Linked DNA regions of Homo sapiens: region 1 is linked to region 2. The links come from fine-mapping of genetic effects on gene expression. A gene starts in region 2. The other region holds a variant in brackets. All regions are shown on one strand. Distances are between the middles of the regions.

Region 1 (16,344 bases), 100 kb before region 2:
CCGACGCTTCCTCGTCTCCCTGGAGGTGATGGCAGCCCTCTGGGGAGGGCGGATGGTTCCTGCTCCTGCCACAGGGAAGGAGCACCCGGTCCTCTGGCTTCCTCTGCTGGCTTCTGTGAAATCTGTTTCTTGCTGGTCCTCACAGTCATGCATTGCCTCCTTGCCGAGATCCTACGTCCTGGCGTGGGCTCCTGCTCGCGTGGCGCTCCCCTGCTGCATCTTGGTCCCCCAGAGCTGATGTGGTCCCCTTGGGGCGAGCTAGTTCTGCGCCCTGAGAGCCACATCTCACTTTTCTCACGCTCTGTCTGGAGGCCCCCCGCCCCAGGTGACTTGCCAGCCACCGTCAGCTGGATTCAGTCAGTGGGATGCCCTGCGGGGAGGTGGGGGCAGGAGGAATGGGGGAGCCAGCTGATGTCATCCATTCTCACCCAGTCTCTTGGCTTCTCAGGCAGCACCTGCAGGACCTCCACAGCCCCCGCAGCACCCGCCTCCCTCCCAGCCCTCCCAAGGGGCCATGGGGATTTCGGGTGTTACTAAGCTCTGGGGCCCGTCTCGTTCCCTGTGCAGCCTTTTGGCTCTTCCATCGTCTGTAGAACTGAAACAGCGCATCCAACTCCCTAAAGTGGGTTATGGTTTCCTGATGCGAAGCTGCCTGATAGAAAGTCGCAGGACACTTAGCAGCTCCTGCCCTCGGCCCACCCCCCCGCCACGCCTCGCCGTTCCTGTTTGTTGTGGGGTCTCACCCACTCCCTGGGAAGCCCCCAGTAGCCTTTCTGCTCCGGGGTCCCTCCAGGCTTCTTTTCTACAGCTCCTCGGAGACCCTGGGCCTTCCAGCCCTGGCCTCCCCCGCGCGGCTGCTCGAGCACGTATCTCTTCTTGGATGGAAAACGGCTCCTTATCATCGTGCATTTTTCTACCCATGACTTCCCTCACAAACTGGGCAGCATCCAGGAGGCTCTGCTGGGGATATGCCATGCCAAGTTTTCAGCATTGTGAAAAACATGAAGTAAAACCTCTCTCAAGAGTCAGCTTTGCAAATCAAAAGCACTCTGGCTTTCATACAGTTGCCTCTGTTCTGTCTTCCAAAATCCTACATAGATTAAACTCAGAAGCCAAGAATTTGACTTTTTGGTAGAGGCTATAGCCTACCATCCCCCTGGGACAGTTAATATTCCTGATTATGGTGGATAAAGAGCTGTGATAGGAGGAGCAGGAACCTCAGCTTTAAAATCTCCAAAATGGCCAGGCGCGGTGACTCACGTCTGTAATCCCAGCACTTTGGGAGGCCGAGGCGGGTGGATCACCTGAGGTCAGGAGTTCTAGACAAGCCTGGCCAACATGGTGAAACCCTGCCTCTACTAAAAACTAAAATAATAATAATAATAATAATAGAAAAATAAAATCTCCAAAATGTATCCTGTTACATTATTGCCATTTTACAAATAAAGAAATAAAGTTTTTCTTCTCTTGCCAACTGACTACTGGCAAATCAACAACCATTTTCTTTAATGTTTGAGCAAATTGTATCCCAATTCCTGTCTTGATAAAGACAGTTGGGCATTCAAGAAAATTCCTGGCCAATGGCAATGAAATTGAGAAGAAAACAGACTGCCCGGGGCCTTCTCAGATACAAATCTCATGTATTAGCATTATGTGAAGATCCATTGATATATTCCTTCTCTCATGTGCTGTTTACCGTAGGCTCCCCCTACCCCATCTGGGCAGCCAGGCAGGAGAGCAGCCATGGGATAATAAAGTGGATTATTCCATATTGAAGGCCTTTTTGGACAATTGTATGGTGGCCTTGAAATGTACTTTCTCATTTAGACGTGGTGAGCAATGGGCGAACCAGAGAAACAAAGAAATCAGTTATTGGCTTTTAAGCTAAAAATAAAACAGGAAAGATTTGCAAGTCTGTCCTATTCAACAAAGCTGCTTTCCCTCCTCCTCTCCTCCAGGCCTCTTGGCTTCTCAGGCAGCACCTGCAGCACCTCCACTTCAGGTGGAGGAAAAAGGAGCCAGGAAAGAGTTAGGAAAACTTGGGTTTTTGTCTGTTGCTGGATCCCTGGCATTGGGCAGGGAAGGAGTGAGAATGAAGATAGGTGCCTCCAGGCCTCGCAATAACGATGGGAACCAGTTTAAAGGGGAGGTGAGAGACTGAAGTGTGAACTGGTAAGTGAACAAAAACAACAAAGAGAATGCTAGAGGGAAATTGCAAAGCTACATATAGACTGATTAGTGTCCTATAGGACAATAAAACCACAGGTTTTGGGGTTATCCTCTCCTATGAGCAAGAACTATTTTCGTTGTTATTGGACAAGAATTATTTGCATCTTATCAGTTTTCAAAAAGTGAACACCTAACTTTACAGGATTGTAAAATGTTTGGCCTCTAATCGGTAGAAACTAATAAGCCAATCAAAGTTACATTGGCTTAAAATAAAACGACTCCAGGTGAGCTTGTTAGTATGACAATGAAAGTCATGTGGGTTGGGCGCAGTGGCTCACACCTGCAATCCTAGCACTTTGGGAAGCTGAAGTGCGAGGATTGCTTGAGGCCAGGAGTTTGAGTCCAGGGGTTCAAGGACAGCCTGGGCAACATAGACCTCATCTCTACAAAAAAAAAAAAAAAACCTAAAAAATTAGATGGGCATTGTAACGTACATCTGTGGTCCCAGCTACTTGGGAGGCTGAGATGGGAGGATTGCTTGAGCCCAAGAGTTTGAGGCTGCAGTGAGCTACAGTTGTGCCCCACTGCATTTCAGCCTGGGTAACAAGGCAAGAACCTGTCTCCAGAAAAAAAAAAAGAAAAGAAAAAAAAAGTCATGTGGCTTGTTTTTGCCTGACATCCACATTTTGGATAATTTTTTTCTTAATAGATTCTCACGCAGAGCGTACCTGTCACCTGGTTGGTCTTTCTAGAACTCAGGTAGTTGACATGGCAGCCTCACCAGGGTCCCTCATGTGACATTCACAGAGAGGCTACAAGAGGTATCCAGAGTGAGCTGTAGGGGTGTGCAGGAAGCCAGACAGCCCTTCCACCTGCCACAGGAAATGGTGGGGGGTGAGGGAGGGGTGGGGGGCGGCAGTGGGGAGGAGGGGAAGAAGAGAGAATATGAGGGATCTGAAGCACCTTTGGGGGCCTTTCAGCTGAGATAAGGGCAGCCAGTGGCAGAGATTGGGTGGCCCATCGCCACAGAGATCCCAGAGGAAGCCCCTGCCTCCCAGCCCATGTACAGGTGGGAGCATATGAAGGCCACCCAGGTAAGTCACACCTCAAAGGCTACTGGCTTAGAATCAGGACAGAGAGAAGTCCAAACTGACCCCCCACCGCTCTCCCCCAACTTCATGCCCTTTGCATCTGCCTCTCAGAGCTTAGCCTCTGTCTTAGGGTAGGGAGGAGGGTGGACACCAAAGGGAAACAGCCCTGAATGGGCAGCGTTTATCTGGTATTGCCTAAATTATGGGTTCTGCTTGGGCAGAATGGGAGCTTGCAGCAAGGAATTAAATTGAGTTAAAGGAACTTACATGTGCACATTTGAGCTCATGGTTTGTGAATTCATTTTGGCTGTATTTATAACCCTTTAAATCTCTAGAGTGAAGCTTTGTGGAGGTTCTCAGACTGGCCACTAGAACAAGCAGTGAGGCAAATTTCAGAATGTGCTTCCCATGGTAGAAATCTGGTGAGCAGGATCGTGGAAGCTTGGACTCTGACTAACCGCTGGAGAATTGCAGCTCCAATTTTTATAGAGCTGGACTTCCTAAGTGCCAGGGCCCTCTCCAATTAGGTCCTCAGATAGAACTGATTGAAATCTTATATTAAATATAAGTACTTTGGCTGGGCATGATGACTTGAGCCCATAATCCCAGCTCCTTGGCAGGCTGAGGCAGGAGGACTGTTTGAGGCCAGGAGTTTGAGACTAGCCTGGGCAACATGGCAAGATTCCATTTCTAAATTTTTTTCAAAATTAATAGGGAGCAGTGGTGGGTGCCAGTAGTCCCAACTACTAAGGAGGCTGAGGCAGGGAGATCACTTGAGCCCAGGAGTTGAAGACTGCAGTGAGCTATGATCATGCCCCTGCACTCCAGCCTGGGCAACAGATTGAGACCCTGTCTCTAATAAAATAAGTGAATAAATACTTTGAATGCTTTTTTCATGCTAGGAGTGTCCAACTCTGCCTTCTGATAGGCTCCACTTGTTTCCTGCCTGCTTGCGCTGATTAGGCATGATGAGTGTGCTTTATGCTGCAGAGGGCCTTCCTTCCCTTACTGCCAGCCAAAGAAGAGAGACACCACCTGTGAAGTATGTGCAATTTCACCCGCCAGTTAAACCTCTTTTCTGCTCCACCCAAAAAATAGCTGAAGGGAAGACGGCCAGGATTGAGGGTGTCCCTTTCAGGAGGTAGCGTCAGACTTCATCAGATCTTGAAGACATTGTGCCTACAGGTCTGGGTGTGGCTAACCATGGACCAGCCTCCAAGGCTTCTCATAAATCCCTGTCAAACTCCTCATGTTGACGTTGAACCCAGGGAAATTACTAGAGCAAACGGTCTCCAAACTATTTCAATCCTATTTCCTTATCACTGAAACAAAGCTGAGGACAAACCCTGGCTGTGCACATGTATTAATAATGTACATACATGTATTCCATGTACTAATATATTGCATATATGATAAAACACACAAAATAAGAAAATTACTATTATTATATTTTTAGACATGGAGTCTCCTTATGTTGCCCAGGCTGATCTCGAACTCCTGGGCTCAAGCAATCCTCCTGCCTCAGCCTCCCAAAGTGTTGGGATTACAGGTGTGAACCATTGTGCCCACAAAATAGGAAATTTAAAGGGAGGGGTGTGCATTGTTAGGGAACCCAGGCACCCTGGCCCTCAGCCTGGCCCTGCAGCTCTGGATGAGGCTCTCATCTCCTTCTTCCACCTTTCTGCTTTCCCTAATCCCCAATAAAGGAGAAACAACAGCATTGTGTCATTCACAGGCACAGAGATAAAACAATTTAGATACAACCAGATGGCAACTCTGATGCATGACAGGTGAAGCCCAAAATTGGGACTTAGCCCGGAAGGGTTCTTGGCTTCCCCCAGGAAAGAATTCAAGAGCTACCCAGTGGTGTTCAACAGCAACTTGTATTGAAGCCACAGCATCCAGGAGCAGCAGAGGCACTGCTCCTTGCGGTACAGGGCACTCTCCAGGAAGTGTGTCCAGAGGAGCAGCTCAGATTTAGGGCTGCACTAATATTTACACCCACTTTTAATTATACATGAATTAGGGGGTGGTTTATGCAGAAATTTCTAGGATGAGGGTGGTAACTTCCTGATCACTGGGTCATTGCCATGGAAAGGCGCAATAATTTTTGGGTGTCGCCATGGCAATGGTAAACTGACATGGCACACTGATGGGTGTGTTTTCTGGAAAACTGCTTCCCCTATAACCTGTTTTAGCTAGTCCTCAGTTTGGCCCGGTGTCTGAGCCCTGCCTCCGGAGTCAAGTCCCACCTTCTACCTCAACTCCACACCTTGGCTCAGGCCAAAACTTTATCATTCTTGACCCCTCTTTCTCTTAACTCCACATTCACTCTGTCAGGACATCATAGCAGCTCCACTGTCAAAATACACCCAGATCTAGAGCCCCTGCACACCTCCCCACTGGGCCACAGCCACCTCTTTTGCCTTCCTCCTTCCCTAGTCAGCCAGACCTTATCACCCTGAGCTGGCAGCCCCTCAATGGCTCACACCTCTGCTGAGAAGTCAAAGCAATCACCAGTGCCTTCTGTGCCCCACCTGACCGGCCCTCCACTTCTTCCCTGGCCTTGGCTCCTGCCTCACCCACCCAAGTTCTCTCAGCCATCCTGGTGGCTGGAGCCTCTTTGCAGGGCCAGGTGCTTCCACTGGGCCCTGGGCCAGACAGCACCTGGAGCTCTGTCCACAGCCGGGCAGGTGTCTCAGCCCTGATCTCTGCCAGGTCTCTGCTCAGGCATCCCCTTCTCTGCGCACCCTGCCTGAGCACTGGAAGGCAGCACCCGACTTCTCCTCCAAGTTTCTCTGTAACCAGCACTTGATCACCTCACAGGCACTCTCATCTCGTTGCTTGTCTAATGACTCCACACAAATGCAAATTCCTGAATCTTTGCTTTAATGGCTGCAGCCGGGGCATCTGGAACAGTGCCTGGTACAGAGCAGGTACATTTGCATGGAATGAAAGCCTGCGCTCCAGGGTCTTCCAGTATAAAACACATGCAGATTTTAGAGACAGGAACAAGCCCAAATTGATCAATAAGGGAATGGGAGAATGAGTGCTTCCCTTCCTTTTCTGTTTTACACAATACAATATTCCTTTTTTAGTCTTTAAAAAACTATAACCTCTGGCTTCCAGGAGTTCAGAACATCCCATCTGACTACGAGCACAGGTCTCAGCAGGGTCACGCAGGCAGTGGCCACTGCTGCTGCTCCACTGGGCTGAGGACACGGCCTCAGCAGCGAGGAAGGTTTGGGCAGCTCCCTGGGATGGGAAAGAAAGCATCTTTACAAGCTCACATGTCAAAGCCTCTGTGCCCTCCACAAACCCAGCCAGAGCCAACTTGAGAACAACTTTATCTGGCTTGTGCTGCCCAGAGAATACTTGTTTTTGGATCTCCACTTTCTCACGATCTTTGGCAGAGCCACATCACACACTGGGGGAGCTCTTCTGAGGATTAGGACTAAGTCTACACCAGGGATTCTCTCCCAGGGGAGAGTAGGGACAGAGTAGGCAGCTGTGTGCCAGAGAGCTCTCCTACTATCTTGCGCTCAGAGCAGGCTCGGCCCGCAGTTCCCCTCACAGTGTCTTCCTCAGAAACACTATTGCCAGCAGGCAAATGTTTGAATCTGGTTCTTCCTGTAGGAAAAAGGGATAAAGGCAAACAATAGCAAGAGCTGGGGCAGGGATGGGGCAGAATGAGGGACCTCTAGGGGAGCTTCCGAATGCTGAAATCGGGTGAAGCCATCCAGCACCGCGGCAGAGCTTCCAGAACAGCGACGCAGGAGACTGGGTGGATGGTGGGTGCTGGGTCACCGTGGTGGCCACGCAGTCTGCAAGGCCTGTAACCAGCTCAGCCGCATCAGACCCTGCTTCCTGGGCAGGGCTAACCCCACTCACTGCGCAGGGCTAACCCCACTCACTGGGGAGTATGAGGTAGGAATAGCACTTACCTGGGCAGGTGCTTCATCAGTGTGTCGCTGGAGAATGTGGCAGGCAGAATAATGGCTCCCCAAAGATGCCCAGTGCCCACAGCCTAACCCCAGAACCTGTGAGTATAGCACCTGATGTGGCAAGAGGGACTCTACAGACATAATTAAGGGCTTTGAGATGGGGAGTTTATCCAGGGTCATCCGAGGAGGAGGGTCCGCCTAATCACATGGGTCTTAAAGCATGGCAAAGCATTCCCTGCTGTGGTCAGAGGAGACGAAGCTACAGAAAGATCGATCAGAGAGATTCCACATTGCTGCTGCTGAAGATGGAGGAACAGGGCCACGATCCTGGGAATGTTGGTGACCTCTAGAAGCTGGAAAAGGGGAGGAAGCAGCTTCTCTCTGAGGCCTCTGGAAGGGCACACAGCCCTTCCGCCCCGACTTCTTGATTTTAGCCCCGAGAGCTGTGTTGGACTTCTAACCTCCAGAAATGCAAAATGGTAATTGTGTGCTATTTTAAGCCACTACATTTGTGATGACTTGTTACAGCAGGAAACAGGAAACTAATGTAAAGAAGTAGGCATGACTGTGTCCAGTAAAATGCAATTAAATAAGAACTAAAGATATTTCACAGGGCTGTCCCCACAAGCAGGACAAGAGAGCTCTATTTTCAACAAAAAAATTTTAATGCATTTTCATGTTTAAAGTGATAGAAATACATGCTCATTGTAAAAAAAAAAATGGTAAAAAGATCCCTAAATATACAGAAAATAAAACCATATGGTCCACCTACTCTGGGTAGCCCCCACCAAGACTTCTGTGCGTTTTCTTTCAGCTTTAAGTTCACTTTTTTTTTTCTTTTCTTTTTTTTTTTTGGAGACAGGGTCTCACTCTGTCAGGCTAGAGTACAGTGGTGCGTGATCTTGGCTCACTGCAACCTCTACCTCCCAGGCTCAAGTGGTCCTCCCACCTCATTCTCCTGAGTAGCTGGGACCACAGGTGGGTACCATGATGCCCGGCTAACTTTTTGTATTTTTGGTAGAGATGGGGTTTTGCCATGTTGCCCAGCCTGGGATGGAACTCCTGAGCTCAGGCAATCCAACTGCCTCAGCCTAAATGCTGGAATTACATGTGTGAGCCACTGTGCCTGGCCTTTAAGTTCACTTTCATTTTTTATTTTTTGAGATGGAGTTTCACTCGTCGCCCAGGTTGGAGAGCAGTGGCGCGATCTCAGCTCACTACAGCCTCCGCCTCCTGAATTCAAGTGATTCTCCTGCTTCAGCCTCCTGAGTAGCTGGGATGACAGGCACTCACCACCACACCCAGCTAATTTTTGTGTTTTTCTTTAGTAGATACGGGGTTTCACCATGTTGGCCAAGCTGGTCTTGAACTCCTGACCTCAGGTGATCTACCTGCCACGGCCTCCCAAAGTGCTGAGATTACAGGCGTGAGCTACCACGCATGGCCGATTTCACTTTTAAAATATAACTGTCATCACTCAGATGCTAAGTTCTATGTACTAATTTTTTAAAAATAGTACATTTCTGGTTTTGAAGGGATGCACACTCAAGATTTTTATAGTACAGAAAAATATATGACAAAGAAATTCGAAATCACCAGGAGCCCCTCGAGAGATAACATTTTAACATATTTTATTAGTCTTTTTAAAGGATAACTGAGAATACCTTATATAGTACACCTTTTCTTGCCTACACAGGAATAATCACAGGTGTTAGAAGAGGGGAGAGATGATTGATTACAGGTTATTAGTGTTTCCTGCCAACCACCACCATCCCCCAGATTCCATCACAGAACAACAGTCCGAGTTATTTAAAGGTCAGCAATCCAAAGATCCAGATCACTCGAGTTCTTTGGCCATAAAAACAGGCAGCAGATGATGCTTGATATGGTTTGGCTCTTTGCCCCACCTAAGTGTCACGTGGAATTGGAATCCCCAGTGTTGGGGGAGGGGCCTGGTGGGAGACGATTGGATCCTGGGGGTGAACGGCCCCCTGCTGCTCTTGTGCTAGTGAGTTCTCTGGTTGTTTAAAGGAGTGTGGCACCTCCCCCTTCTGTCTTCCTCCTGCTCCAGCCATGTAAGATGTGCGGGCTTCCCCTTCGCCTTCTGCCATGATTTTGTTTCCTGAGGCCTCCCCAGCCATGTTACCAGTACAGTCTAGGGAACCGTGAGTCAAACCTCTTTTCTTTATAAATTACCCAGTCTCAGGTATTTTTTTTTCTTTTTTTTTTTTTTTTT[TTG/G]AGAGAATCTTACTCTGTCGCCCAGACTGGAGTGTAGTGGCATGATCGCAGCTCACTGCAATGTCCGCCTCCTGGGTTCAAGTGATTCTCCTGCCTCAGCCTCCTAAGTAGCTGGGATTATAGGCTCATGCCACCACGCCTGCTAATTTTTACATTTTTAGTAGAGACAGGGTTTCACCATGTTGGCCAGGCTGGTCTCGAACTCCTGACCTCAAGTAATCTGCATGCCTCGGCCTCCTAAAGTGCTGGGATTACAGGTGTGAGCCACCGTGCCTGGCAGGTATTTCTTTATAGCAGTGCAAGAAAGGACAAATACTCTATAGCTCTGTTCCTATGGAGAAGAGAAACAGTCTTTTGAGAACCACTCCTCCCTCCATACCTGGAGTGCTGCAGCAGCTCAGCACCAACTGTGGTTTCAAGAGCTGGACGAGTCTCAAGATGACAGGTGGGACACAAGAGCCACATGGCTGCAGCTGGAACAGAAGCCGCAGCCAAAGAGCAGCCTGGGAGAGCCCCAGGGCCCCACTCCGCCAGGAGGCGCCGGGGCTGAGCCTGAGCCTGAGGCACGAGCTGCAGTCCTGTGGATGCTGCCCGACTTGCCTTGTTTTTTTAAACCAGTTTGAAATTACACCATATATATTCACGATAGACAACTCCAATATAAAACAAAAAAAAAAAAAAAAGAAAATTGAAATAACTCATGACCCTGCAGGCAGTGTGGCATCAAGAGAAGCTGCCCACCGCTGGCCGGGGCGTGCCAAGGCCAAGCACCCGCCCTGTGGGTGTCAGGCGTCTCCGTCCTATGCGGGCACAGTGACAGTACTTGGAAGGTCACTGGGCAGTGAGAGTACTTACTTGGAAGGTTACTGTGAGGAGCACATGAATTAATAACTGCAAAGGACTTTATTCAGCATCGGGTGTGCAGTAATTGCTCAGCAATGTCATTCCCTAACATTTTGGGGTGCACCTTCTCAGGTTTTTCCAGTGTACTCATGACCACACTGTATGTGGTTGATACAGTTTGGATATTTGTCCCCCCTCAAATTTCATGTTGAATTATAATCCCCAATGCTGAAGGTGGGGGTCTAGTGGGAGGTGTCCGGCTCACGGGGCCAGAGTTCTCATGAACAGCCTGGGCCATCCCTTGGGTGATGAGTGAGCTCTGGCTCTGAGTTCACCCGAGATCTGGTTGTTTAGAAGTGTGTGGCACTTTCCCCTTCCGCCCCCTCTCTTTCTCCTGCATCCACTATCTGAAGCCTGTTCCTGCTTCACCTTCCGTCATGAGTAAAAGCTTCCTGAGGCCTCCCCAGAAGCAGATGCTAGCACCACACTTCCTGTACAGCCTGCAGAACTGTGAGCCAATCAAACCTCTTTTCCTACAAATTACCCAGTCTTGGGTATTTCTTTATAGCAGTGGGAGAACAGACTAACACAGTGGTTTTCCTGTGCTCATGACAAAAACATCCTCCCTGTCGCTCATCCTTAGGAATTGTTCTGGATTAGGTGCCCTTGGCGGGGACGCCCCAGCCCCTCCCTAGCCAGGACATGCTGACCTTTACAGCCATTGCTTGTGTACTGTCGCCCCACTAGACAGTGGGCAGGGACTGGGCCAGCCCCAGGCCCTCAGTGGTGCTGCCAGCCCACATGAGCAGGAGGCACCCCGCTCTGGAGAGAAGCTGCATTGTAGGGAAGGCACACTGGGGAGTTAGGGACACAAATCTACCTCTCTACATTATGATAAGCACTTGAAAGTACCAGGGGACAGAGGAGGGCCGATGGCTCTAACCGACGTGAGGAGGCGCAGGAGAGGACGAGAGTCTGCAGACCACCCGGCCCCAGCGCCGGCTCCTGCCTCTCGTCCACCACCACCAGCAGCATCCTCGTAACCCCCTCAGGGTAAACCGCCAAAAACTAGAGTAGCAGTTGCAGTGGCAGCAGCAAGGCCACCCCAGTTTTGCCAAAACTGTCCTGCAACTAACCCACCGTGACAATGCTTGCTTCCCATGTTCAAGTAGTTTTGGGTGGTTTTTAGATTTTTGGTTGTAAGTAAGCGTATTTTTCTGTATTTCACCCATTCCAAGACGCACTTTCCCTCCATTTCAACATCTTTGAGATCAGGGTGTATCTTAGGATGAGGGACAAAAACCTCCCCGGCAGCATTTATCCCTTAGTGGAACACAAAACAGTGGTCACTCTCCAGTGAAGGATGTCTCAGACAACATGAGACATGGTTGCACCAAATCAATCAACTATTTAATTACCACTTGAAGCTTTTGTTTCATGCTTAGAAAGCCCTTCTTCATCCCAAGATTAAATCGTTTTCATTTCCTTTTATATGATTTGCCTTTCTTAACCTTAAATATATGACATGTCTAATTTATTTTGGTGTAAGGACTAAAGAATTGGCTTTTTTTTTCTAAACGGCTCTTTGTCCCAGATTTAATATGGTACCTTTATCACAGCAAAATTCCCAGATGCACTCAGTCTATTTCTTACCTAGATTCTATTACTATGCCAATCTCACAATGTATTAATTATAACTTTACGCCATAGTCTCATCAACATGCAATTACAAAGGCACCAATTTTGTGCACATTAAGAAAACACCAATTAAATTAACACACACCATTGACTGTAAGAAATAACCCAATCTCAACGATGTGAAAATGGTAGAAAATGCACAGCTTGGATCAATGTACTCCCATACGGCAGGTGGGACAAGTCATCTTGGTCACTTATCTTTTTCAGAAGTTTCCTGATTGTTATATTTTCCCAAATAATTTTTTTTTTTTTTTGAGATAGAGTCTCACTCTCTTGCCCAGGCTGGAATGCAGTGGCACGATCTCGGCTCACTGCAACCTTTGCCTCCCGGGTTCAAGCGATTCTCCGGCCTCAGCCTCCTGAGTAGTTGGGAGCACAGGCATGCCCGCGCCTGGCTAATTTTTATTTTTATATTTATTTATTTATTTTTGAGATGGAGTTTCTCTGTTGTTGCCCAGGCTGGAGTGCAATGGTGCGATCTCGGCTCATTGCAACCTCTGCCTCTTGGGTTCATCACGTGATTCTCCTGCCTCAGCCCCCTCAAGTAGCTGGGATTACAGGTGCCCGCCACCATGCCTGGCTAATTTTTTGTATTTTTGTAGAGACAGGGTTTTACCATGTTGGCCAGGCTGGTCTCGAACTCCTGACTGCAGGTGATCCACCCACCTCGGCCTCCCAAAGTGCTGGGATTACAGATGTGAGCCACTCCACCTTGCTTCCAGCTAATTTTTGTATTTTTTGGTGGAGATAGGGGCTCAACATGTTGCCCAGGCTGGTCTCGAACTCCTGACCTCATGTGATCCGCCCACCTCAGCCTACCAGAGTGCTGGGATTACAAACGTGAGCCACCATGCCTGGCCCCAGATAATTTTTAATTTGGCAAGTCACCACCATACAAAAAAATGAGGTTTTAATTAGTCTTACAGTGGATTTTCAGACAAACTTATAGAAAATTACACAAAGGATTTTAGTGGTTAGAAAGTAACAGCCTTTTTTTCCCCTTAGAAAGTATCTCAAAATTTACAACCTCTACCACATACTTCATGCCAAGAAAATTAGTATTGCTGTCTCATGAGCTAAAAAGACCACAGAGAAAGAGAAAAGCTTTCTGTAGTAACAATAAATGATATGAACCTCTGTATCTTTCAGAGAAAAGGAAAGATACTTGCTATGGACTGAATGTTTGTGTTTCCCCCAAATTCCCAGGTTGAAATCCTAACCCCTAAGGGGATGGTCTTAGGTGAGGCCTTTTGGGAGGTGATGAGGTGATGAGGGTGGGGCCCTCTTATTGGATTAGTGCCCTTACAAGAAGAGAAGTGAGAGAGATGTTCGCTGTCTCTGCCACGCCAGGATGCAGCAAGAAGGCAGCCCTCCACAAGCCCAGGAAGAGAGCACTCTCCAGGAGCCAGTTCAGCTGGCGCCAGCTCTCAGAGTTCCCAGCCTCCAGAACTGTGAGAAATAAGATTCTGTTTTTTAAGCCACCCTGTCTATGGTATTTTTGTTACGGCAGCCTGAACTTAGTACCTGAAGGATGTAAAGAGAAAGATTAGCTAATTTTAAGATCATTTAAGGCTATTTCTAGTCACTTTCTTTCTCATACCAAAAATCTCACAGAAATAATTTAAACCACAAACAAGAACCAAAATTGTAAGAACAAGGACATGAAATCACATCACTTCTAAGTGATCAGGTCGTGTGGGTCAGTGAGAACACCCTGGGCTGGGCAGATTCGGAGGCTGCCATTTGTCTTTTCCCTCTGCTGCAGAAGCACATCAGTTACTCAAGGCCATTTTCAAAGCACCTCACCTGAGCAGCAGCAACAAACTCAAATCCCTGTCGAAAAACACAGCAGAGCCTCCAGCCATGGGGAGCACTGGCTTGTGAGGATACTGAGGGCCCCTGCAGGTTCCAGAACTCCACTGCCCACCTGTGCAGGGCCAGGCCAGGGGACACTGCCACACAGCACCAAGTGCTCTAGCAGGGACAGGCAAGAGGCACTCAGACAGGTTGAGCCCCCGACACCTGACAGGTACAGCAGGCAACAGTGACCTAGAACCTAGAGGAGATGTCCACTGAGCTGGGTCAAGTGGTGAGTGGCTCAGAGAAGAGGAAGAGAAACAGTGATCCCAAGGACAGACACCCGTGGGGGACCAGAGACACAGCAGGGCCCCAAATACAGAGAGAAAGGGCTTGTGGACTTGGGGCAGAATCCACAGAAGGAGCTTGGGCAGGAGAGATGACCAGATTTGCCTTCTGGAGCCCACTTATGTCCGTGAGGGCCACAGCAGAAAAGGGAGAAGAGGAGGCAGGCAGGGCTCTCCCAGAACTGAGGAGACCCTGAAACTGTCTAGGTAATGTGAAGGGGGTCTGGACAGCCAGGAGAACTGCACGAAGACAGAAGCTGCCAGTGAGTGGCTGCTCAGAGGAGGGGCAGGGATCGGGGAGAGTCTAGGAGCTGCAAGTGAGTGGCTGCTCAGAGGCGGGGCAGGGAGGTGGGGAGAGTTTAGGAGCTGGAAGCTACAGCTGGGGAGGTGCTCACAACCTCCATCGAGGCAGGTGAGTTGGAGGGAAAGTGATCCATCCTGCCTGTGTGGAGCTTGGCGTGTCTGTGGGAAAATCTAGAGGCTCAGTAGGTGAACTGGGACCCAGGAGAGAGACGTTAGCTGAGAACAAACTTCAGAGTCATGCTGGGGCCCGGCACTGTCACGGCGGATGGTGCCAGGTCCTTGAACACCAACATCTAAAGGGCCAGGGGAAGAGTTGAGGGCAATCGAGAAGAGAGTGACCAGAGACTTGGGGAGAGCGTCCAGAGGAGCTGCACCACCCAGGGCCATGGAGGAGTGAGAGGGAAGCCAGGGAGCCCTAATGACTGGCTGGGCCCCGGGCAGCAGGGGCGAGAACGATGGAAAGCACGTGCTCGAAAGCCTGGGTGGAGAGGGAAAGACCAGCTGGGCCACAGGGAGAGGGGATAGAGTTAGGGAAGGAGAGAAGAATGGCTGGCTTTTTGCCTTGTTTCGGTTTTATTCATTTACTGATTGGAGGGAGACCTGCAGGTAAAACACAGCCTTGAAGAGCTAGGGGAGCGGGGAGAGCACCTTGGGAGAGACTCAGAGCCTGCCTCGTTCCCTCACCGCCATCTAGGCAGGGCAAGAGCTGCTAAGGGCAGGAGGCCCCGAACCACTCAGCATTTCTGAGCAGTGCCCTGGTCAGCAGCGCCTGAGCACTGCTCAGAAAGTAAACTTGATCTACAAAGCCTGGCTGTGGCACAGCTTCCAGCTCTTCCAGCTCAGGGCTGCCCTAGGCAACAGCAGGCACGACACAGGGCTGTGGGGTCAGCCAGGTCACCATGGACATGAGGACCCTGCCCATAGCATGGTGCACCGAAGGGCATGCACCAGGTGCCCAGTGAAGACACGCTGAACAGAGAAGAGGTGAATGAACAAGGCCTTATGAAAGTGCTGTGTGCCTCCAACTCCAGAGCACTGTGGAACAGCTTACAGCGCCCGGCCCTGCTCCACCGCTGGGATGCCAAACAGCCCTCAAGACAGGCAGCTGAGAGGGGCTCGCAAGAGTACTTAAAGCAGGGCTTACCCAAACACAGTCAAGCCCAAAGCCCATGAAAGAAAAGTGGAATTCTCCTCAGCGAAGTTACGTTCAACCAGCCTGGATTGGTGGCTCACGCCTGTAATCCCAGCACTCTGGGAGGCTGAGGCAGAAGGATGGCCTGAAGCCAGGAGTTCAAGATCAGCCTGGGCAACATAGGGAGACCCCATCACTACAAAAACAATTGTTTTAGATTAGTCATGTGTGGTGGCATGTATCCGTGGTGCCAGCTACTCGAGAGGCTGAGGTGGGAGGATTGCTTGAGCCCTGGAGGTAGAAGCTGCAGCCGCAGTGAGCCACAATTGTGCCACTGCACTGCAACCTGGGCGACAGAGACCCTGTCTCAAAACAAGTTACTTTCAATGAAAAAAAACCAACCAAACAAACAAACAAAATACCCAACACCCTGACACTCCCTTACAATGCGGTTTGAGCAGATGAGGAAACAGCTGCTGTTCCGAGTGTGGCGTGGCCGGTCAGATCATAAGTCGCAAAGGATCCTGTAGGGCCACCGGGCCCCTCACCCCTCAGGAAAGGGGTGCGACCTCTGGAAAGGCAGTTCCCAAACCCCCCTGTGGACAGCTACCACCACTAACGCTTGTTTCTCTAGAGGAAAAATGTCTCCCAGGCTAAATTTCAATCAGCTTTGCAGAGCCCACAAGTGAAGCTCCAGGTTGAGCAAAGAGCCCAGCCGAGTCGAGATCCCCACAGAGAAAAGTTACCGAGAAAGCTGAGTGTAGTGCAGACCACTGTGGAGG
Region 2 (16,344 bases):
CAGCCTGGGCAACATGGTAAAACCCCATCTCTACAAGAAATACAAAAATTAGCTGGGCGTGGTGGCACGTACTTGTAGCCCCCAGATACTCAGGAGGCCGAGGTGGGATGATCGCTTGAGCCCAGGAGGCGGAGACTGCAGTAAGCCAAGATTGCACCACTGCACTCCAACCTGGGCAAGAGAGCAAGACCCTGTTCCAAGGGAGGAAAATCAAAGGGTACCAGAGGGAGCACACAGTAATTCTCAGATTATGAAAGCATAATACAATCCTTTATTCATTTAATGAGTAATCTGACTCCACAATAGGAAACTTCTGTAATATCTAAATTATTCACTTAAATATTAAGTTTAGTAAGCTTTCCCAATTGAATCACAAATTCCTCCTAGAGACGATGTTACCTCTTTTATAACAGCCACTGTGTGTGTGTATGTGTGTGTATGTAAGAGTAATTAAACTCAAGGTAGGAATGCACAACAGGGGGAGATTTGAGACTAGACAACAAAACTTCAGAGAAAAAGGTAGAATTTGAAAATTAGCTATAACCATTTTTTTAATAAAGTAGTTTTTAATTACAATCAAAGGGATTTACACTAGGAAAAGAATAATAATATACTCATAATGTCCATTTTTGACATTATTTGTATATATGTACCTGGAAATATTTACATAATGAACATTAAGAGTAGACCTGGAAATATTCACATAATGAACATTAAGAGTAGACCATGGGAATATTATTATAACTAAAGTTTTCCAAAATCTGAAAATATTCTAAAAAATATACTGGATATAAGATACAATATCTGGCACACTGTACAACTCCAATGCTATTATTGTTATAAAGGCAAAGAAATGAAAAATAAGCAAACAACGATAATCCCTTCAAGTCTATTTTTTTTTAAAGTGCTTAAAAAAGCCCCCAAAAAACCCAAAACAAAACAAAAAAACCCAAAACCAAAACCCATACCTTCTTGGGAAGAGGTTCTTCGTTGGTCATCTTGAATCCTAAAAAAAAAAGTTGCGGAAAACAAGTTCAATTTATTTTCTTCCAGTGAAAGTAGGAATAAAAAATACTGACTCTTTCAAATCAATTTATTAGTGAACTAAATTACTGTTGAATAATTAGAATTTAAATAAACAATTTTAAAATAGTTTTAGATTTACAAAAAAGTGGCAAAGATATTACAGAGTTCCTATATACTCTGTACCCAGATCTTCCTTTGTTAACATCTTCCATCATTAGAGTTATTGGGTAGTTTTTACAAATTCCCTCGTAAAAAAGCTGATCAGCCATTCAAATCATTTGATGTCGCCATAAAGGGTGAAGAGAAATATAATGACCTCAAGTAGTATCCTACGCATGTTGCTAAGGGACTATAAAAGGGTAATACCAGTTTAAGTCTTTCCTTTTATAGCATTATGTTGTTAAAGTAAGGTAGTACCTACCACAGCCATAATTTACTACTGCCCAATAGTTTTTTAGATATATTATATATTTTATTTTTATTTTTTTTGAGACACAGTCTCACTCTGTCGCCCAGGATGGAGTGCAGTGGCGCGATCTCAGGTCACTGCAACCTCCGCCTCCAGGGTTCAAGCAATTCTCCTGCCTCAGCCCCCTAAATAGCTGGGACTACAGGTGCGTGCCACCACACCTGGCTCATTTTTGTATTTTTAGTAGAGACGGGGTTTCACCGTGTTGGTCAGGCTGGTCTCGAACTCCTGACATTGCAACCCGTCCGCCTTGGCCTCCCAAAGTGCTGGGATTACAGGAATGAACCACCACGCCCATCCTATTACATATTTTAAAATATATGTTACACTGGTTGGGCGTGATGGCTCACGACTGTAATCTCAGCATTTTGGGAGGCTGGTGGGTGGATCACTTGAGGTCAGAAGTTCAAGACAAGTCTGGCCAACATGGTGAAACTCGGTCTCTACCAAAAAATTAAAAAAATTAGCCCGGCGTAGTGGCACACGCCTGTAATCCCAGCTACTAGGGAGACTGAGGCAGGAATCGCCTGAACCTGGGAGGCGGAGGTTGCAGTGAGCCGAGATGGCGCGCCACTGCATTCCAGCCTGGGCAACAGAGACTCCATCTCAAACAAACAAACAACAAAAACTCACATACACATGTATGTCACACCTTAATAAAAATATTCCTACAGTATTTAATTTTATGCCAAATATTTTGTATCTCAAAATTAGCTTCTTTATTATACAAAATTCACTTAACCCTGTTTCAAAGATAGGTTAATGAATTCAAGTAGGGAACACTTTATTATGCTGTTTTTTAGAACGAATGCTAATAGCAGGTATTATTCATTAAACTACAAATCCACACACAAAAAAAAGACAAAGAAAAAATGTGTAATAAACATAAACACCACATTAAAATACAAGGTTGGAAAAAAAAGTATACGACATGAAGAGCTAACCTGACAAACATAAAATCTTTATATAAAAATTCTATGAGGATTAAAAAATTGAATCAGGGTTCTGAGTACCAGTGCTCTTTTGAAAAAGCATCTAAATTGCATTTGGCATATTCATAACTTATACAAATTAAGTAATTAGTTCTTATACTAATTTAGTTTTTCCTATTCTTTCTTTCTTAAGAGATGGGGACCCACCATAGTGCCCAGGCTAGTCTTGAACTCTTGGGCTCAAGTCATACTCTCATCTCAGCCTCCCAAGTAGCTAGAACTACCTGTGGAAGGATCACGCCCAGCCCTAGTTATTATTTCTAATAGTATACTCATGAATCTTCCCTTACTTTAAAGTGTTTATGGTTTATTTTAATTACCCATACTTATTATAAATTCTAAACTACTAGAAATTTGACCAAAAGCTTGGTATGTTAAACTGAATTTTTTTTTTTTTTTTTGAGATGGAGTCTCACTCTGTTGCCAGGCTGGAGTGCTGTGGCATCATCTCGAAAGCTACTTGAGGCTGGTGTGGTGGCTCACACTTGTAATCCCAGCACTTTGGGAGGCTGAGGCAGGAGAGCTGCTTGAGCCTAGGAGTTTGAACCGAGCCCGGGCAATGTGGTAAGACCCTGTCTCTCATTAAAACAAACAAACAAAACACACACACACCAAGACTACTTGATTTCTCCCACTTGATTTTGAGATTCCTCAAAAGGAGATAATCTTCCAACAGCATGTTTTATACTACGTACAATCTCAACTCCACTTTATAAATGAAACATTCTAATCATACTGTTATTAAACCCTGGTTTTCAGATTAAGTAAATTGTGTTGAAGAAAGCAGAATTTAGAGGAAAAATCATAAATTGATCTTAGATTACTGGCTTGCTTCTTTCTCTGTTTAATCTTTTTTTTTGGAGATGGAGTTTCGCTCTTGTTGCCCGGGGTGGAGTGCAACGGCGCGATCTCGGCTCACCGCAACCTCCGCCTCCTGGGTTCAAGCAATTCTCCTGCCTCAGCCTCCCAAGTAGCTGGGATTACAGGCATGCGCCACCACGCCCGGCTAACTTCCTTGTATTTTTAGTAGAGACGGGGTTTCTCCATGTTGGTCAGGGTGGTCTGGAAATCCCGACCTCAGGTGATCTGCCCACCTCAGCCTCCCAAGTGCTGGGACTACAGGCATGAGCCAGCGTGCTGGGCTTTTTTTTTTTTTTGAGACAGTCTCGCTCTGTCACCTAGACCACAGTGCAGTGGTGCGATGATGGCTCACTGCAATCTTGACCTCCCAGGCTCAAGTGATCCTCCCACCTCAGCCTCCCGAGTACCTGGGACTACAGGCATGTGCCACCACACCCAGTTAATTTTTTGTAATTTTTTTTGGTAGAGACAGGGTTTCGCCATGCTGCCCAGGCTGGTCTCGAACTCCTGGGCGCAAGCAATCCAACTGCCTTGGCCTCCCAAAGTGCTGGCATTACAGGCGTGAGCCACTGCACCCTGCCTTCCCTCTTTAATCTTTCTCAAGGGATACAGCAAACAGATAAAAACCTCAGTATTTGTTTCTGAGCTAATTGTATACAGTCTGTTTCACTGAGCAAGTCACTCTGTCCTATGAAGACATAAACCATATTACTATGATATAAAATGTATATTATTCTTTTTTTCTTTAAATTGGTTCCTCCCTTGTTGCCCAGTTTATTATCTCTGCTGCCATTACAGAAAGCTGCTTTGTAACTACCTTAACCTGGTGGCAGTCATTTTAATCATCTCAGAAACCATCACCATATTTAACTCCACATGTCTAACTACTTCTATTTTAGCATGACACATGCATTAGGCTGCAAAGTCTTAGAACCCAGATATCAAATCTGGCATTTCCTTGTAATTTCCCATTTGTCTGGAGCTAAATATCAATTTTACACACACACACACACACACACACACACACACTATATATATATACAGAGAGAGAGAGAGAGAGAGAGAAAGAAGCAGACAGAGACACTCCCCCTCCCCCTGCGCCCGGTCTCTGTTGCCCAGGCTGGAGTGCAATGGCGCGATCTCGGCTCACTGCAACCTCCACCGCCTGGATTCAAGCGATTCTCCTGCCTCAGCCTCCAGAGTAGCTGAGATTACAGGTGCCTGCCACCACGCCCGGCTAATTTTTGTATTTTTAGTTTCACCATGTTGACCAGGCTGGTCTCGAACTCCTCACCTCAGGTAATCCACCTGCTTTGGCCTCCCAAAGTGTTGGGATTACAGGTGTAAGCTACTGCGCCCGGCCAATAATATTTTTAATTTAAAAAATCTTAAAGACAATTTTAGCTATTTGAGCTGTACATATTTAACCGGTATATCAGTATCTGTATCTATGTATATACGAACATAAAATTTTGAGAACCAACCAGGAACTTCACGTAACAGGTACTGTGGTAGAGATCTGTGAATGACAGTTTGAAAACAGCTATATTTATCACTATGGCTAGGTGGTATACCTTTTATCTAGTTACTAAGGCATCCTACCTACTCAGTATGTACAACTTTAGTTGTAATACTAAAGTATCATGGATGCTGTTCAATATAAATTCCAGCTTATAAAAGTTATTATAGTTGGTCCTTGACCAACCCAGGTTTTAGCTGCATGGGTCCATTTATATTTGGATTTTTTTCAATCAAACTCAGATTAAAAAATACAGTACTCGGATCAAAAATACAGCATTCACGGGATGCGAAACCTGAGTATGCAAAGGGCAGACTTTTCATACACCAGGGTTCAAATTCCTATGCCAGGATTTTGGCAAGGATCATCGGTATGTGGTTCTACAACCTGATACTTTCCCTAGGTTTACTTGCTTACTCTCTTCTTAAAGACAGGTATCCATATTCTTATTCCACTAAAATAAAATTAACAGTAAGCTTAGCAAAAAATGAGATGATAATCTGTTTTTAAAGGGCATTAAAAGGACTGAGAAACACATGAAGAAAGTTCTGATAACCTTGGTATTCTGAAACAGGTTGTCAACTTTGCAAATACAAAAGTAGCAAAATCTCTGCACCTCAGTTTCCCCATCTCAAAAAGAATTACCACAACCAGGGCCCAAATACTGTGCTATTTCTGAAGACAGACATTAATCTTTAGCATGGTAACTGGCACAAAATGGGCATTTAATTAATAGTTTCTTCTCCCCATCAAAAACACAGACTCAGTGTTTCTTGAAAAACCTGAAGAGATAATCCACAGGTTGAGGATAATAATCATACTGTCCTCCCGACTGTTTCTAACACTTACTGCAGAATTCTTTGGCATCTCCAATATTTAGGATTCTAAACAGAAGTTACTTAAATTTTCTTTTTTTCCTCTCTTTTTTTGAGACAGAGTCTCACTCTGTCGCCCAGGCTGGAGTGCAGTGACTCGATCACAGCTCACTGCAGCCTCCATCTCTTGGGCTCAACTGATCCTCTTGCCTCAGCCTCCTTTGTAGCTGGGATCACAGGCATGAACCACCACGCCCAGCTAATTTGTTTTTTTTTTCTTGGTAGTAGAGATGAGGTCTTGCTATGTTGCCCAGGCTGGTCTTGAACTCCTGGGCTCAGGAATCCTCCTGCTTGGGCCTCCAAAAGTGCTGGGACTACAGTTGTGAGCCACCATGCCCAGCCTGCAATTATTGAAATTTCTTTTCTTTTTTTCTTTTTTTTGAGACGTAGTCTCTCTCTGTTGCCCAGGCTGGAGTGCACGGGCATGATCTGGGCTCACTGCAACCTCCGCCTCCCGGGTTCAAGCGATTCTACTGCCTCAGCCTCCCAAGGAGCTGGAACTACAGGCACGCACCACCATGCCCAGCTAATTTTTGTATTTCTTTTTTTTTTCTAGTAGAGACAGCGTTTCACTATGTTGGCCAGGCTGGTCTCCAACTCCTGACATTGGCTTATGTTCTTTTTAAAAAGTTTGATGGTGAGTAGATTTTAATTAAATGGTGCTTTTTATTGAAATTTTCTTTAAAAATAAAACTCTGTATTTGTAATGTAAGTCAGGAGTAAATACAGATTTTGGATAAATGTCTACACTTCCTAAGTCAACTCTCAGAGTCACTTTTAAGATCACTCTAGCTGTCTGGGGTATCCAACTTGGGAAATTCAGAGCCTCAGTATTTAGAAAGAAAATCCTTCCTCAACTTTAATCTGATGAAAAGTAAATCTTTCCTTGAAAGTCGATGATATGCCACAAAGTTAAATGCGCCATCTGGCAAAAGGCAAATTAGAACAGGTTCAAAATTTACAACTGTCTACAACATTCAACTATTTGGTCAAAATAGAACCTAATTGGCAATTTTGACTTTCACACCACACGAATGTACCGAGAAGTTTGGTATTCCCCAGGGCAATTTTTTTTTTAGCGCAAATGACAAACACAATAACCTAAATTTAAAGTCAATTCTAGATTCATAAAGGCAATGAATATTCTAGGTTCTCAGAACAATCTATTCTCGTATCAGAAAAACAGAATGACCATAACATCATTTGGAGTCAATTAAAGTTGAATCCTGAAGGAAAATAATAAAGAAAATATGTTCAGTTCTTATGAATCACACATTTAATAACAGCACTTTTCAAAGTCAAAGTTAGTTCCCATTTTCCAGGATGAAAATGACTGTTAGTCATTAGGTGATCAGCTATTAGGTGATTAAAACAGCTATTAATTAATAAATTGGGGGTAAGGGTCTCAAATTTGGTGCCCCTCAAAAGGGTGGTAACATGATTGACTAGTTTTAAAATTACATAAAAGTTTCAGTTATTTATGTAGATAATTCAGAGATAATATATCTCAGAAAATCAGGACCACCATCTACTCTTGATGCCTTAACACAGAAAAACAGCTTAGTATGGAGTTCAGTCTAGACTGGTTAGGTGCCTAGCATCCCAGATCCCAGTACCTTCCTGGCTCTTAGCATCATAAAGTTAGGTAACTCAGTTCCCTCTGAACGGAGGCAAGCGCCAGCCAAAACAACTTCAGTAAGAAGACACGGTACCTTGGCGAACAAATCATAGCTGAATGTAAGACACCAATCTGCAGACACTGTAGTAGCAAGGTACTGATGAGGAACTGAAAGGCCATCTTTTCCTTATCCTCTATCTGCCATGTGTGATTCCAAGCAAGTCTTTTAACTCTTGCAGTTTCCAAGTCAGCAAAAAGATAATTTTGCCTGTCTCACAAAGTGCTGCAAATATTAATGCTTTCAGCACAATAAAAATGCTATAGATTTTTCAAATAAAATATGAACATAATATGAACATAAAAGGCAACTTCAATGTGCACTTAGAAAAGATTAAATTCTATTAACTACATCTTCAAAGGCAGAAAATATTTACAGCAATATATTTTAGTCAGATGGAACATCTTGTTATACACAATACACAATGAAGTTTACTATTGTGGAGATACTGAAAAGTTTTTCTGTGTTAAGCTTAGTAACTACAAGAAGCAAAATATTTAGAGGCAGAAAAGTTGGAGACAACTAAAAAAATTAAAAACAAGAATAAAACCAAAATACTATCTTCAGTCTTCTTTTGCTGAAGGACCTACTAACTAACGTACAATTTTGAGGAGCAAGAAGCAAATACATAATGATCAAAACTGCTAAACAATATATTCAAGGGGATTCAATACTACATACAAGACCATAAGAGACCTTGAACGCTTTAATGTACTGTACAAATTGTGACAATGCTCATCTCCACATCACAGGGCTTTTTACACATTGTGTTTCATCTCTACCAGCTTATTTCTGACAAACAATACACAAAAATATTTTCAGCAAACATGACTCAACGTTGAATTGGAAAAGCTAGACATAAAAGAGCCATGTAAAAATAAGCAGTGCCTGGGACACACTATTATTATTACTTTTATCCTTTAGGAGTTAGCAATTCTGGTAGCTTGTCCAAATTCTGCCAATGAAAAAGTACTAAAAATACTGAACTTTTAAACCATGTGTCTGCTTAAGATACCTTAACATATAAAAGCACTGTAAGAAACACACCTACCCAAACCCTTAAAATGTAACCTCAACCTTATCACAAGCCAGCTTTGCGGACTGCAATCTTTCCCCGACTTGGCTAATCAGATGCTACTTGAATGAATTAAAATGTATCCATCTTGAAAAGATTTTTCGCTCATAGTTTTAAATTACGGTTTTAAATGTCCACAACATGTTTATCTATCGTAGAAAACTTAATGGTCAAAATTTTAAAATCCAAAAAACGAGAACTTGCGATGGATCTATGACGTCCACTTATCTTCCGAAGCAATGGAATTAACTAAAACTAGATAAAATAGGCACAAATACAACTTCCAATTGTAACATACTCATAGAAGTATTTCCCTACCAGACTAAATAATAGTTTTTTTGTTTTGTTTTGTTTTTTTTACATAATCACAGTTATGCTAGTCCTTGATAATGTTAAGCTAATCCTTTGGGATCAAACAACCAAGTGACTTTCTTATCAAAACAAGAACTCGGGCTTTTCCATTACGTGTACACAGACTTATGAAAAACGGTGAAAAAAAAATCTAGTAACTGTCTCACAGGGATCCAAGGTAAGACTTGGATTTCACAAAAATCTGCAATAATTCAGTTTCTTTCCTCAGAATGCTTATACTCATTTAAAAATGGAAGTCTACAAGAGAACGTAGTAACATCCTACTGCGTGACATGAAATGTAGGGAACGAATGTTTCTTTTTTTCCTTGCTGAACTCGTTAGTGCCGCCAGGTCCTCAGGAGAGGCCCAAGGGAGGTGAAGGGGGCGACCCCGAGGCGAGGAAAAAACGAGCGCCGCCGCTCAGCCCGGGGAGGGCATCCTCCGGCCTCCGTGAGTGGCCGGTCTCTCCGGCCGCCAGAGCACCCCTCTCAACCCGGGCCTTGGGGACGGAGGACAGAGATAAAATGGCCTCGAAGCGGCGGAAGTGTTCCCCGCAGGCGGGAAGGTAGAGCGGCTCACGAGAGACCGGTGCCGCACCAGGCCCGTGTGGCCTTTCGGGCCCTGCCCGCCCCTTACCCGCCGGGGGCGGCTGCGCATCAGCCCTCAGGCCCCGGAGGTCCCCCGCGTCCGCTCCCGCCAGCCGGCCCGCGCCTACCTCTCCAGGCAGAAGCCGCGCCGGCGCCACCGGTCGCATAGGCCGAGGCCGCGCTGCTTGCCCTGCCGCCCGGGCCCCCCGGGCCACCGCGCAGCCGGACAGCTCTGCCGCCGGCCCCGCCGCGCTCCTAGTCCCGCCGCAACCCCTGCGCTCCCCTTTATTTGTGGGTCTCGCTGCCACAAAATGGCGCTGAGGGAGGAAACCAGGCCCCGCCGCCCGGCCCCGCCCCGCCGCACGGCTCCGCTCCGCCCTGCCCCGCCCCACAGCCGGTCCGAACGCGCCGCAGGCCAGCGCCACTGCCTCCCGCCTCCCGCCTCCCGCCTCCCGCCAGCCTCCCCGCTCCGCCATGTTCGCCTTCTGGCCCACTCACAGGAGAGTCGCCTTTCAGGCGTGGCCGCAGTCACTCGCCCGCCGCCGAACCCCGCCAGGAGAGGAAAGGTGAAGGGAGGGAGGCCGTCGGCCTAGCCCGATCGGGGCCTCGAGGCACAATGGAGCAGCTGCTCCCCGGTAACACTCCCCGTCCTTTCCCAGGAGCCTGGCGCGAGCTCCGCGGGCCCCGGAGCTCAGCAAGCTCAGTAAGGGAAGCGGCCGAGGGGAGGGGCGGGCCAGCGAGGTCGGAGGTCAGCCCCAGGGCATCACGGGAAGGGAAGGTGGAAGTACTCGCCGGGGCCACCTGCGGCTGCGGGGCTGCCTCGTGCGGAGGGATCTGGGCGAAGGCGGCGCGTGATTGGCCGCTCTGTGTTCGTGACGCTCATCCGTGATGCTTCCGCGTGTCGGAGGACCAGGTGCCACCTCAAGAGAGAGGCCGTGGGCGGCGAGCCGCGGGCGTTTACTCTTAGCAGAAGCTCACCTGTAAGTTTTGAGAACTTAGAAACCGATGCCTTCCCTCTCATCAGTCGTGAGGCGCAGTCTCCTGGCCGCTGGGTTCGTTCCTCCTTGACATCTCTGGAGACGCATCGAGGAGCTATTGTTCTCTGGCGTCGGAGGTTGCGCTGTGTCCGCGGCGTTGAGGGCCCCTTGCTAACTGGAACACGGGGAAGGCGGCCCTGTGAGGTTTAGTGAACTCAATCAAAGAGGTCCTGCAAGTGGAGTAGACTCCCTGAAGTAAGACTGCCATCTGGACCGCCGAGTAATGGCGGTGTTACCTGGAGAACGTGAAACAGTCTCTAAACACTTACTAGAAGAGCACGTAATTCTTTTGATTGGTCTGTCCTTAGCCGGCTTTATCAAACCTGTTCATCCCCAAAGGAGTGTCTTGTAGTAAGGTGATTTATTAGGATAAGATTAAAGTACATTCCAGATGGTCGTAGTATATTTCCAGTGAATCAGATCGGTCTGGAGAAAATCTTTGCAACTCGTATCACAAGAGCTCTCAAAAATTGAAAACAAAAAGTGCAAAAGCCAAAGGAGAAAATGGGGAAGGACATGAACAGATGATTCTCAGAAAAAATACCGTAATGGTCTTTAAACATAGAAAGTCGCTCCACCTCACTTACAATGGAAATACACGTTGAAATTACCTTTCCTGGTGGGAGTGGAAAAATGGTTCAAGTTCCACGGAGTACAAAATTACTTGTGTTTATTCTTATACCTTGCAGTTATACTTCTAACCCTAACCTTATTCTGAAGGTGCAGCTCCACACATGGAAACAATAGGTATACAAGGTTATTGCAGTGCTATTTGTCATAGCAAAAGTTAGGGATAACCCAAATATCCGTTAATAGGGAACTGATTGGGAATGGTGCATCCATACAGTAGAACACAATGCAACCATTAAAAAGATTCAGGAAATAATCGTGTGTTGCTTTGGAATGAGTCTCAGGTTGTATTAAGTATTCACTTAAATATTTAAGTGTAGTAAGTATTCACTGTATTCAAAAGCAAAAATAAGCATATATGCTTTTATGTATTTACTTAAATACATAAAAATATATATTTATATTTAATATGAATATTTATGTGTATATGCTTATTTTCGGGGAGGAATTGGAAGGATATCCTGGAAACTTAACATTTTTAGTTGCCTATAAAGAGTGGGGGGTGGAGACAAGATTTCTCTGTCTTTGAACTTTTAGTTTTACATAGCCAAAAAAGTAAATAAAAAAGGAAACAAAGTAAATCCTAAGGTTGAAAGCAAATTGAAACAAATGAACTTAACTGTTAACTAATATAACTAAGATACACAGAAAAAATAATTATTCTTTGGGTTTTTTTTTTTTTTTTTGAGACAGTCTCACTGTGTTGCCCAGGCTGGAGTGCAGTGGTGCAATCTCAGCTCACTGCAACCTCTGTCTCCTGGGTTCAAGCGATTCTCTCAGCTCAGCCTCCTGAATAGCTGGGATTACAGGCATGCGCCACCATCCCCTGCTGATTTTTGTATTTTTAATAGAGATGGGATTTCACCATGTTGGCCAGGCTGGTCTGGAACTCCTGACCTCAGGTGATCCGCCTGCAGGTTGGCCTCCCAAAGTGCTGGGATTACAGGAATGAACCACCACCACTGGCCCCTCTGAGCTTTTGAACACAGTACTCTAGTAGTGTATCTGTGTTGTGATAGTGTAGTCTTTCCTTATATGCAGGAGATTGGATTTAGGACCTTCTGCGAGCATATACAGAAATCTGCATACTAAAGTCCCGGAGCTGAGCATAGGGAAAGTTGGTTCTTTGTGTAGGTGTGTTTTGCATCCCACTGTACTTCTGTTTTGTTTTCTTCCTTCCTTCCCTTTCCTTTCTTTTTCTTTTCTTTTTTTCTTTCTCTCCCTCTCTTCTTCCCTCCCTTCTTCCCTCCCTCCCTCTCTTCCCCCCTCCCTTCCTTCCCTTCTCTTGCTTTTCTTTTTTTTTTTCTTTTTTGAGAACAGGGTCTGACTCTGTCGTCCAGGCTGGAGTGCAGTGGTACGATCATGGCTCACTACAGCCTTGACTTCCTGGGCTCAAGCAATCCTCCCATCTCAGCCTCCCGAGTAGCTGGGACCACAGGCATGTGCCAGCACATCTAGCTAATTTTTTTCTATTTTCAGTAGAGAGCTGTGTTGCCTAGGCTGGTCTTGAACTCCTGGGCTCAAGTGATCCTCCCACCTAGCCTCCCAAAATGCTGGGATTATAGGTGTGAGCCACCGTCCCTCGCCCCACTGTATTTTTCATCTGTGTTGGGGTGAAAAAAATCCACATATAGGTGGACCCTGGCAGTCCAAACCAGTGTTGTTCAAGGGTCAACTGTGTATTCTAAGGATGAAAAAAGTGCACAGGAGCTTTCAGCTTCACTGATTTATGATTAATGGTAACATTGTTACTGTGGTTTTAAAACTCTGTACTGTATATGGTAGGATAACATAAGTATTTTAATGTTACTATATACAAAGATGTGCAGTGTGTGAGAGAATGAGATACAAACACAAGATCAAAGAAGTTCAGAAAAGGGCCGGGTGGCTGATGCCTGTAATCCCAGCACTTTGATAGGCCAAAGCGGGAGGATCACTAGAGTCCAGGAGTTTGAGACCAGCCTGGGCAACATAGCAAGACCCTGTCTCCATTTTTTAAAAAATTTAAAACAATTTTTAAGACGTTCATTCATCCGGGGGTGGGGGTGGAAACTAATATAAAGAATTTTAAGAAGTTCAGAAAAAAAAAGTCTGTAGTATTGAGTTTAAACTGGAGGGCTGGGTGCAGTGGCACACACCTGTAATCCCAGTGCTTTGGGAAGCCAAAGTGGCTTAGGAGTTCAAGACCAGCCTGGGCAACACAGTGAGATCTTGTCTCTACAAAATACAAAATAATAAAATAGCCAGGGGTGGTGGCCTGTGCCTATAGTCCTAGCTACTTGGGAGGCTGAGGCGAGAGGCCCAAATGAGCCCAGGAGTTTAAAGTTACAATGAGCTGTGATCTCACCAGTGCACTACAGCTTGGGCAACAGACCCTATCAAAAAGAAAAAAAAGTTTCAACTGCAAAAAAAAGTCCTAGTTCTGTGGACTGAAAGGGCCTAGAAGCACTAGGGTGACCAGTTGTTCTAGTTTGCCACAAACAGAGGGGTTTTCTCTGGATGCTGGACTTTCAGATTAAAACTGGAACAGTCCTGGCTGAACCAGGATGTATAGGCATGGGCACCCTACAGTAACAGTGAGCACATCTGACACTGAGATCTTGGTTTCTAAATTCCATTTCCCACTAAAAAGATCCAGAGCTCCTTTGGAGAACTGGCTGATTCCAGCTCTGGGACGGGAAAGGTACAAGATGAGCCAGGTATTTCGTTGTGCCTGAATGCAGAGGAAGTGCTTAGACCAATGAGGCTATGCCAACTGTAGTTAGGAGAACAAACAACACTAATCCATAGTGGTAGATAGCAGATCAGTGGTTGGTTAGGAGGGGAAGAGAGAAGGAATTGACTGGAAAGGAAAATGGGAGAACTTTTGGGGGTGATGGAAATGTTCTGTGTCATGGTTAGTGGGAATGTATACGTTTGTCAAAATTCATCAAATTGTGTCACTGTAAAGAATGCATTTTATTGCAAACCAAATGAGAAAAGCAAAGTCGATTGAGAACTTGCTGTAGCAAGGGAGTCAGCCACCATCCCTTATGTTTTAGCAGAGGTTCAAAGGCATGCAGAGGAGTGGGAAAGCTTTACAGTGGACAAAAGGAAAGGTTTCACAGGTATGCCTGATTGGAAGCTGTTGGCATGGGGAAGCTGGAAGCTAACTACAAGTTGGCATCCTATGGTCTTGGTTAAAGGAGCATATTTGGCTTTCTCTGGATGGGCATAAGCTAGAAGTGAGGACAAAAAGTAGGGAAGCTGTCAAGTTTTAATCAAGTCCTGGCCATTTTGAGCTGATTGTCATAGAAGTTATTATTTAGCTTCCTGGATTGCTACCAGAGATAGCAGTCTGACTTCCTACAAGTCTGGTTGATAGCAGGTTTGGCTTTCAGGCTGAGAGTACACTTATGGTAAATAAGTGGTTGGTTTACTGGGCTAGTTGTTGTAGGTAATGGGTCAGAATTCTGTTTTTATGTATATTCTGGCCATTTACCATTTGTATTTTCAGTCTCTCAAAAATAAATTTTAGAGACATGGGAGCCAGCTTGAAGGATCTCCCAGGGGGCAAATTTAGGGCAATTTTAGCGTCAAAAAGAAAATGAATACAATTGATTGCAAATACTGAATAAATAAAAGTCTACTCTCTAGTACAGAGAAGAGAGAATGAGAAGAGGGAAACTATTTTTCCATCATTGGTAGTGTCTATTACACCAATTTGATACTCTGAAAATTAGTTATTAAAGGGAGATAGCATTTACCCTGTTTGTTTTTTGTTTCATTTGTTTTTGTTTTTAAGACAGAGTCTTGCTCTGTCATCCAGGCTGGAGTGCAGTGGCACAAACATGGCTCACTGCAGTCTTGACCTCCTGGGCTCAAGTGATCCTCGTGCCTCGTCAGAAGCTGGGACTACAGGTGCCTGCCACCATACCTGGCTAAGTGTTTTTGCTTGCTTTTTTGTTTTTTTAGAGATGGGGTCTTGCTATGTTGCCCAGGCTGGTCTTGAACTCCTGGGCTCAAGTGATGCTCCCACCTCAACCTCCCAAAGCGCTGGGAGTACAGGCATGGGCCACTGCTCCCAACCTACCCTGCTTTTTTTTTCTTTTTTTTTTTAATAAAGAATGTGGTTTATACCCAGTTGATGAGGAAAAACTCTTCTTTACTATAGGATGCCAGCTAATAAGTATAAAATAAAATATAGAATTAGACAATAACCATGATGCAAACCTTAATGAAATAATTGACTCAGACAAGGACTATCAATGGACTTCAAAACCTTTAGATGAAAGATTGCTGGGAAATGCCATCAAAGTATCACTCTACAGGCTACTTACCTAATTGTAAAAGAAATTACAGGCTGGGTGTGGTGGCTTACGCCTGTAATCCCAGCACTTTGGGAGGCCGAGGCTAGCAGATCATGAGGTCAGGAGTTCAAGACCAACCTGGCAACATAGTGAAACCCCATCTCTACTAAAAATACAAAAAAAAAAAAAAAAAAAAAAAAGGTCAGCCGCAGTGGCTCATGCCTGTAATCCTGTAATCCCAGCACTTTGGGAGGCCAAGGCAGGCAGATCACCTGAGGTTGGGAGTTCGAGACCAGCCTGACCAACGTGGAGAAACCCCGTCTCTACTAAAAATACAAAATTAGCCGGGCATGGTGGCACATGCCTGTAATCCCAGCTACTCAGGAGGCTGAGGCAGGAGAATTGCTTGAACCCAGGAGATGGAGGTTGTGGTGAGCCAAGATCGCACCATTGCACTCCAGCCTGGGCAATGAGAGCAAAACTCCGTCTCAAAAATAAATAAATAAAACGGCTGGGCACGGTGGCTCATGCCTGTAATCCCAGCACTTTGGGAGGCCGAGGCGGGCAGATCACGAGGTCAGGAGATTGAGACCATCCTGGCTAACATGGTGAAACCCCATCTCTACTAAAAATACAAAAAATTAGCCAGGCGTGGTGGTGGTCACCAGTGGTCCCAGCTACTCGGGAGGCTGAGGCAGGAGAATGGCATGAACCCAGGAGGCAGAGCTTGCAGCGAGCTGAGATTGTGCCATTGCACTCCAGCCTGGGTGACAGAGCGAGACTCCGTCTCAAAAAAAAAATTAAAAAATATAAATAAATAAAAATTAAATAAAAATAAAAATACAAAAAAAAAATAGTCGGGTGCAGTGGCATGTGCCTGTAGTCCCAGCTCCTTGGGAGGCTGAGGCAGGAGAATCACTTGAACCCAGGAGCAGAGGTTGCACTGAGCCGAGATC

Evidence for each region.
Region 1: its variant is fine-mapped to the expression of WTAP in CD4 T cells (BLUEPRINT, PIP 0.95).

The regions. Positions count from the first base shown.
Region 1 is chr6:159,821,071-159,837,414 of GRCh38, reverse strand. No RefSeq gene overlaps it. Among named protein-coding and RNA genes, the nearest start is that of PNLDC1, 29 kb to the right of the region's middle. RefSeq lists enhancers at 6,177-6,910, 15,027-15,833. The variant TTG/G (reference allele first, on the strand shown) is at 9,441.
Region 2 is chr6:159,720,920-159,737,263 of GRCh38, reverse strand. It overlaps WTAP (WT1 associated protein), which reads right to left and starts at 9,758. Exons shown (of 8, transcript NM_001270531.2): 1 at 9,561-9,758; 2 at 969-1,006. The coding sequence starts at 998. It also overlaps a transcript of SOD2 not described here. RefSeq lists silencers at 3,316-3,576, 9,340-9,889 and enhancers at 9,352-9,949, 9,900-10,029, 10,380-10,469, 9,950-10,547.